Linked DNA regions of Homo sapiens. The protein of the gene in region 1 interacts with the protein of each later gene in a pairwise test. Each region holds a gene or a part of one and is shown in the gene's direction. Other genes may lie near its edges. The genes, in order: FAM83C and CSNK1A1.

Evidence for each region.
Region 2: the proteins of FAM83C (region 1) and CSNK1A1 interact in binary tests that used the Homo sapiens proteins (3 or more experiments, as listed by UniProt).

Annotation. Positions count from the first base shown.
Region 1 is NC_000020.11:35,289,325-35,293,714, reverse strand, and holds the start of FAM83C (protein FAM83C), read left to right. Parts: upstream 1-1,289; 5' UTR 1,290-1,410; coding exon 1,411-1,923; intron 1,924-3,076; exon of another isoform or gene 3,077-3,312; intron 3,313-4,390. UniProt on the Homo sapiens protein: May play a role in MAPK signaling.
Region 2 is NC_000005.10:149,495,668-149,499,458, reverse strand, and holds part of CSNK1A1 (casein kinase I isoform alpha), read left to right. Parts: intron 1-2,598; coding exon 2,599-2,606; 3' UTR 2,607-3,791.

The DNA of each region.
Region 1 (4,390 bases):
AGCCCACTGCCCACAGTGCACTGGGCACTTGTTTAAAAACTCAGGAATTTGAGGTTACAGTAAGCTATGATCACATCACTGCTCTCTCTAGCCTGGGTGACAGAGCAAGATCATGTCTCAATTAAAAAAGAAAAATGGCCAGGTGTGGCGGCTCACACCTGTAATCCCAGCACTTTGGGAGGCTGAGACAGGAGGATTGCTTGAGGCCAGGAGTTCAAGATCAGCCTGGGCAACATAGTGAGATCCCATCTCTAAAAAAATTTTAAAAGTAGCCGAGCATGGTAACATGCACCTGTAATCCCAGCTACTCAGGAGGCTGAGGTGGGAAGATCGCTCGAGTCCAGAGAAACTGAGGCACAGCTGTAGTGAGCTGTGATTGCGCCACTGCCCTCCAGACTGGGTGACAGAGCAAGACCCTATCTCAAAAAGAAAAAGAAAAAAGACAAGCTCCAGAAGCCTACGGACACCTTCTGGATGAGAATTTCCAGGAGGGTGGGGCCCGGGGATCTGCATTTCATCACCTCTCACCACCCCTGGGGTCAGGGTGAGAGCCACTGCTCTAGGTTCTTGAAGGACAGCTCCGAGCCGGGGTGGGAGAGAGCCAGGGGGCTGTGAGCACCACAGTTAAGATGATGGAGAGTGGCAGGACGATTATGGGAGCAAAAAGAGGGCTGGCTGGGGGACAGACCAGCGTTGATGTCCTTGGATATTCCATGTGACAGTCGTTCAGCTCTCAGGGCCTTGCAGACTTGAGCCAGGGCACGTGCTATCCACTGTGGTATGTGTTGTGGGGGTCATGGCCGGTCTCTACATCGGCGTTTGGGTGAAGAGTTTATGCAAGTGGATGTGATTACAATGTGTGGTCGGTCTGTGTCAGCCCACACTCCATGTCTGTGTATCGGTCAGTTGTCAGTGTGTCCATCTGCATGGGTGTTCATGTCTTTTCCTGGGTGTCTTGAGTCGCTCACCCACCTGCAGTGTGTGTGCGTGTGCGTGTGAGTGTGTGTTCCTGAGTCGCCTGGGCCCCTCTTGGCTGTAATTCAACCTCTGTGGGTCCCGGGAAGTCAGCATTTGGAGACTTGCTGGGAGCCTGGTGGGGATGGGGCGGCGTTGCTGGGAGGAAGAGAGGGAGGCAGGAGTGTGCACCGAGGGCCTGGCACTGCCGCTTCCCTGGGCAGGCGAGTCCCAACACAGGCAGACAGGTGGGGCTGACCTGACAGGTTCCAGAGGCCAGGGGCAATAGGGTGGAGCGTGGCTCTGATTTAGGGTGGCAACAGTTTGGGGGCCCTGCCACACACACAGCGAGCGGGCGGGCAGAAGGCGGTTCTGCTGGTCTCCTCTTCCTGCTGCAGCCAGCCCAGCGTGCGGGCCATGGGCCCTGCCGGCGGGTGAGGCAGCCGCGTGGCAGGCATGTTCGGAGGCCCGGGGCCTGGGGTCCTGGGAGCCCAGGGCATGGCGGGACCCCTGCGGGGCCGGGTGGAAGAGCTGAAGCTGCCGTGGTGGCGGGAGAGCTCACCGCTGGTGCTGCGGCACAGCGAGGCGGCTCGGCTGGCGGCCGACGCCCTCCTGGAGCGGGGTGAGGCTGCCTACCTGCGGGTCATCTCCGAGGAGCGGGAGCTGCCCTTCCTGAGCGCCCTGGATGTGGACTACATGACCAGCCATGTGCGCGGGGGCCCTGAGCTCAGCGAGGCTCAGGGGCAGGAGGCCTCCGGGCCAGACCGCCTCAGCCTGCTCTCTGAAGTCACCTCAGGGACTTACTTCCCCATGGCCTCTGACATAGACCCCCCAGACCTGGACCTGGGCTGGCCCGAGGTGCCACAGGCCACAGGCTTCAGCCCCACCCAGGCTGTGGTCCACTTCCAGAGGGACAAGGCCAAGAACATCAAGGACCTGCTGCGCTTCCTTTTCAGCCAGGCCCACACGGTAAGGGCCTCATCTCTCCATCACTCATCTCACAGAGGAGGAAACTGAGGTCCAGAGAGGGAAGGGACCAGCCCAAGGCCACACAGCGACTTAGGGGCAGAATGAGGACCAGCACCTCTGGCACTATTAGATTGCAAACTCCTAGAAGGGGGACATCCCATATTTACCTTGGCAACTGCTTGGTACCCAGGAATAGTATGGATGAGCATAGAACAGGGCATGGGTGTCAGGGACTCCACAATCCCCTGAAATGCACACGAAGTGGTGCAGGTTGGAGGGAGGAGTCCTCGCTGCATCTTTACCTTGGAAGATGCTCCACTGCCTTAAATCAGATTCTCAAAAAGTTTTATGATCCCCACACTAAGAACTCCAACCTTGGGGAACATCTGAGTCACCTCCTTCACTTATAGAAGAAGAAACTGAGGCCAGAGAGGGGCTTGGGACTTGCCCAGGGAGGTCCATATGGTGACATAGAGCTCAGGGCTTGGGGAGACAGGGGCTCTCTGACTTGGGTCCTGGGGACCAGTCCGGCCCTCCTTGCTGGCTCAGGTCCCTAGTTGCCCCCTACCCTCCTGCACCACATCTGCAGCTGGGCCTGAAGCAGGGGAAGGGGCCAGCGTGTGGGCCTCTTTGGCGTGGCCTTGAGGGCTGGGCTTTGGAACCAAGGAGGAAGGAGGAGAGGAGGCTGCTGGGCTCAGTGATGGGGAGCGGGAGCTCAGGAGAAAGAGAATTGGGAGGGCAGGTAGGGGTGGTCAGCACCCAGAAAGGCTCTGGCCACACACGAGCACAGCTTCCCTTCTGAAGCCCTGGCCTCCGACTCCAGGGGAATGGACGAGATGATCCCTGGCAGGGTTTGAGGGAGAGTTAGGCTCCTGCTGCAGAGATGGGAAGCCAGGATGCTGGGATCCCACCGGTACTTCCAGAGCCTCCCTGGCAAGCCTTCCTGTGCCCCAGGCAGGGGACGGCCAGGCCTGATTGGCATCAGGAATGGGGTTATTAGTGAGGCTGCTGCTGTCGTCCTCCTCACCCCTGCCTCTTTGATCTTCCTGCCTGTCCTTGTTCCCCCACCCTGGCCAGGCCTGTGCTGTGAACTAGGGCATCCCCCAGTGCCTCGCCTTCTCAGCCCCCATTTAGACCCCTCTATCCTGGGTCAGGAGCCAGGTTCGTGCACTGGGCTGTCATGACTCCTAGTGACCTTGGGAAATGCTGCGTTGCCCTGCAGCCCAATGTTTATAGAGCTCTGTTATGTCTTGAGCATTTTCACATTTAATTCCCTGTAACTCTGAGACATGGCTATCATTATCTCCATTTAACAGATGAGGAAGGTGAGGCTTCCAGAGGTGAAGGGACTCACCCAAAGCTGTGTCACCAGGAAGTGATAGAGTCCAGGTTTGAACCCAGTTCTTTCTGACTCCAGAGCTGGAGTGCTATGCTCTGTACCTCCTGCCTCTCGGCCCTGCCTGGGAGAGAAGACTCTCATAGCAGATATATGCCATGGGAAGAAAGGCCAGCTGGGGGCTGGGAGGTGCCAAGAAGGTTTCAGGGGCCTCTTTGAGGCAGCCCTTTATATGGGATGGAGGCACAAGCCCCAGCCCAGCCCTCAACTGAGCAGAAAACTTGGATCCATTTGGCATGGGTGCAAGTAAGGGAGTCTGCAGTGTAAGGGGTCACACCAGACCTCTGTGGCTTCACAGGGAAACTGAGGCAGGACTGGGAAAGGGCAGCGAAGACCCCAGTAAGTGGCTTGTAGCTGTGACCCTGGAGAAGGGAGCCTCAGACAGACAGTCCCTGGGTCAGAGCTGGGCTGGAGTTAGTCGGGGGAGTGCCAGGAACTTGCCTGGGAATTGGGGTCTGGGTTCTCCTTCTCACTGCTGTCCCATCTGGGGCTCAGTGCAGAGGGAGTGTTGGACTAGCACAGCTGATCCACAGTCATCTTTGAGAATCTGATGATGGATAAACACTCGGTGCACAGAAGGATGCACACAAATGCTTTCAAACAGCTAGGGGTTCAAGACAGTCAAATCTGGGCTGGGATTTGACTGTAATCCCAGTGCTTTGGGAGGCTGAGGTGGGAGGATCGCTTGAGGCCAGGGGTTCAAGACCAGCTTGTGAGAACCCCATCTCTACAAAAAATTAGAATTAAAAAAAAACTAGCGACTGGGCGTGGTGGCTCACGCCTGTAATCACAGCACTTTGGGAGTCCAAGGCAGGCAGATCACAAGGTCAGGAGTTTGAGACCAGCCTGGCCAACATGGTGAAACTCCATCTCTATTAAAAATACAGATTAGCTGGGCATGGTGGTGGATGCCTGAAATTCCAGCTACTTGAGAGGCTGAGACACGAGAATCGCTTGAACCCAGAAGGCAGAGGTTGCAGTGAGCCGAGATCACGCCACTACACTCCAGCCTGGGCAACAGAGTGAGACTCTGTCTCAAAAAAAAAAAAGAAAAGAAAATTAGCCAGGCAT
Region 2 (3,791 bases), on another chromosome or scaffold:
CAGATTGGGTGGCGGGCAGGGATAGAATATCCTTGTTAGTTATATAAAAATAAACTTTTTTTTGCTTTTTGCAGATTTGAAATTTAATTAAGCTATTAACTTCTTAATCATCACATCCTCCAACTCTGTTTTAACTCCCCCCTCCCCCTCCCCTTTTTTTTTAAGGAATAAAGGGATTCATTCCTCATTTTAACTGATGTTACAGTGAAGATGGGTTCTTGAACTCTTGGAAGCCTGGATGAGCCACCTAATCTGCAAGATAAAAACCAAAGACCAATGCGTATTGGGGAAAAGAATGCTTAGTACTGCAAGACTGTTGAATACCTGTTGAATATTCCTATTGAGGTTTTTTCCTAAACATACTTCAGTAACATCTTAGGACAATTCACTGGAGAAATGTTGATCCCTGGCTGGAATGTCATACCATTGACCCATTTGAAGAGTTAAAGCTGGATTTGACTGCTCTATTCTACCAGGAATATTGTTAGGGTAGCCTTTTACCAGTTTCTAAACAATTGTAATCATTTATTGACTCAGCAATTCCTCAGATAACAGGTCAAAAGATGTACAGATACATTCTGAAGTTTTCTTGCTATTAAAGGCACAAGAGTTTCCTTGTATTTTGACTGACAATGTAGCATGTTTCCATTTTAGTTTGTTAGTGATGGTGGTTTTCCCTTTGAAAGCCATTTGGTATATTCACCATAACAATTAGTTTAATATGATTACATAAGAAAACTATGATAAAACCCAGCAATTTTAGTAGTTGTGAAAATACGTTTTTTAAATCATGTTTAAGAAGAATTGCAAGACTTGAAACCAAATCCTGATGGGGGAATTCTGTTTAATCCTGTTTAATCTGTTTAATTTCTGTTTAATCCTTAGTTTCTTAACCTGCATAGCTTATCCTGTATTGTACTTTTTTTCTTTTTTAAACTCCCAAACAAGAAGCTTGAAACTTTTCCTGTATTTTAAAATTGAAATTTGGTCACAGGGTATAGTCAGATTTTTATTAAGGTTTGGTTTGACAACCTTTAAAAGAAAGGTTTACCTCGCTAATACTTCTTAATAACATGCATCAAATGATATTCCCTATGGTGAAGTATATTCTCAAAGTTATGTTATCTTTCATTTTTGGCATTTGGTGCTTATGGACTTAGTACCCAGGCAACAAAGATCTATTATGCACCTACTCTCTTGTATGTTCGCTATTATTTCCCAAAAAAAAAAAGGGGCATATATGCATAAGAAATAAATATTAGAATTATTTTGTTTCTCCCACAAAGCCCATGGGAGATGGCCCAACAAATGTTTAAAAAGTAAAAGAAGCTGGGCACGGTGGCTCCCACCTGTAACCCCCACACTTTGGGAGGCCATGGCGGGTGGATCACGAGGTCAGGAGTTTGAGACCAGCCTGGCCAACACAGTGAAACTGTGTCTCTACTATAAATACAAAAATTAGCCAGGCATGGTGGCAGGCACCTATAGTCCCAGCTACTCAGGAGGCTGAGGCAGGAGAATCGCTTGAACCCAGGAGGCAGAGGTTGCGGTGAGCCAAGATCATGCCACTGCCCTCCAGCCTGGGTGACAGAGCGAGACTGTCTCCAAAAAAAAAGAAAAAAGAACTAAAAGAAAAGGAGCAGTTTATGATTGAAGAAAACATGACCTGGGCTGAAGAAGTGAGGATTGATTGGAGTGGGCTAGAATGAGCTATAGTTTCTAGCTCATTTGTAAGGAGGTAGACAAAGGAGCATTGGTGCCTCAGAGTGGGTGTCTGGTGAGAGGAAAAACGGTGCTTAAGAGATTTTCAGGCTATTGCTGTGGGACAGGCATATTTTCTCCCTTTGCCTTTAGCTGTAGATAAAGTGTGGTTATGACCTGAGGCTTCTTGTATTCAAACTTGGCCTAGGGCCTATGTAGAGGCCCTAGGGTCTACTTGTGGTGGAGGAGGGAAGTATTTGTAGAATGTGTAGGCTTGAGAAGTAAATAAAGCCAAAAAAGCATCACTTGCTTACATTTTTAAATGAGTCACAAAACAATCTTTCTAATGCGGCCGGTAAAGAAGTTTTAAAGGTCTAAGGTTTCTCTACAGAAATTACATGCTTCTCAGGTCTTTGTTTAGTAAAATAATACAGATAATTATGCTTTGAATGCATTTATTATTAAAGCTAACCGTTTTAATTTGTGTCAGAAATAATTTGTGCCTATGGTAGGATTAAAATTGTATTCTTTAGTTAAAGCAAAGCAATCTGTTTTTCATTGATTTGATAAATATGTGAATGCCTAATATGTTCTGCATATGTAAAAATGCAGAAACATGCTCATTTGAATTACTAATAATTATTTTAGTATGCTGAGAGGCTTTGAATTCACTGTACCACTCCTTCCTAGAGTCATTCAAAACAGAAAAAATTAGTTTTAAGTATAGATTCATGTTTTTCTGTTTTAAAAAGTTGAGCTAATACTTTTCACAAGAGACGAAATAACATGAGCCACTATAATTATTGGCTCAGTTCCACCCAATTTCCATATTTTGGGTGTAATTTAAAATTTTTGACTTGGAATTTTAACTTTTTTTTTGTTTTGATTTTTTACCAGGTTTCTAAGCATGAATTGAGGAACAGAAGAAGCAGAGCAGATGATCGGAGCAGCATTTGTTTCTCCCCAAATCTAGAAATTTTAGTTCATATGTACACTAGCCAGTGGTTGTGGACAACCATTTACTTGGTGTAAAGAACTTAATTTCAGTATAAACTGACTCTGGGCAGCATTGGTGATGCTGTATCCTGAGTTGTAGCCTCTGTAATTGTGAATATTAACTGAGATAGTGAAACATGGTGTCCGGTTTTCTATTGCATTTTTTCAAGTGGAAAAGTTAACTAAATGGTTGACACACAAAAATTGGTGGAGAAATTGTGCATATGCCAATTTTTTGTTAAAACCTTTTGTTTTGAACTATACTGCTTTGAGATCTCATTTCAGAAGAACGGCATGAACAGTCTTCAGCCACAGTTGTGATGGTTGTTAAATGCTCACAATTGTGCATTCTTAGGGTTTTTCCATCCCTGGGGTTTGCAAGTTGTTCACTTAAAACATTCTTAAAATGGTTGGCTTCTTGTCTGCAAGCCAGCTGATATGGTAGCAACCAAAGATTCCAGTGTTTGAGCATATGAAAGACTCTGCCTGCTTAATTGTGCTAGAAATAACAGCATCTAAAGTGAAGACTTAAGAAAAACTTAGTGACTACTAGATTATCCTTAGGACTCTGCATTAACTCTATAATGTTCTTGGTATTAAAAAAAAAGCATATTTGTCACAGAAATTTAGTTAACATCTTACAACTGAACATGTATGTATGTTGCTTAGATAAATGTAATCACTGTAAACATCTATATGATCTGGGATTTTGTTTTTATTTTGAAATGGGAGCTTTTTTGTTTACAAGTTCATTAAAAACTAAAAACTGTTTCTGTAAGGAAATGAGATTTTTTTTAAACAACAAAAAATGCCTTGCTGACTCACTATTAAATAAAAATCTCCCCAATTTTTTGATAGACTACTTCAAGCCATTTGTTACATGGTATTCCTTTGCAAGTCAATTTAGGTTTCGTGTTATAACTTTTCCTCTTTTTTTAAGAAAAATGAAAAAAGTAATTCTTTTGTCTGAAGGGGAAAGGCATTCTTTCATTTTTTTCTTTTTTTTTTTTTTTTTTTATGACTTGCAGGCACAATATCTAGTACTGCAACTGCCAGAACTTGGTATTGTAGCTGCTGCCCGCTGACTAGCAGCT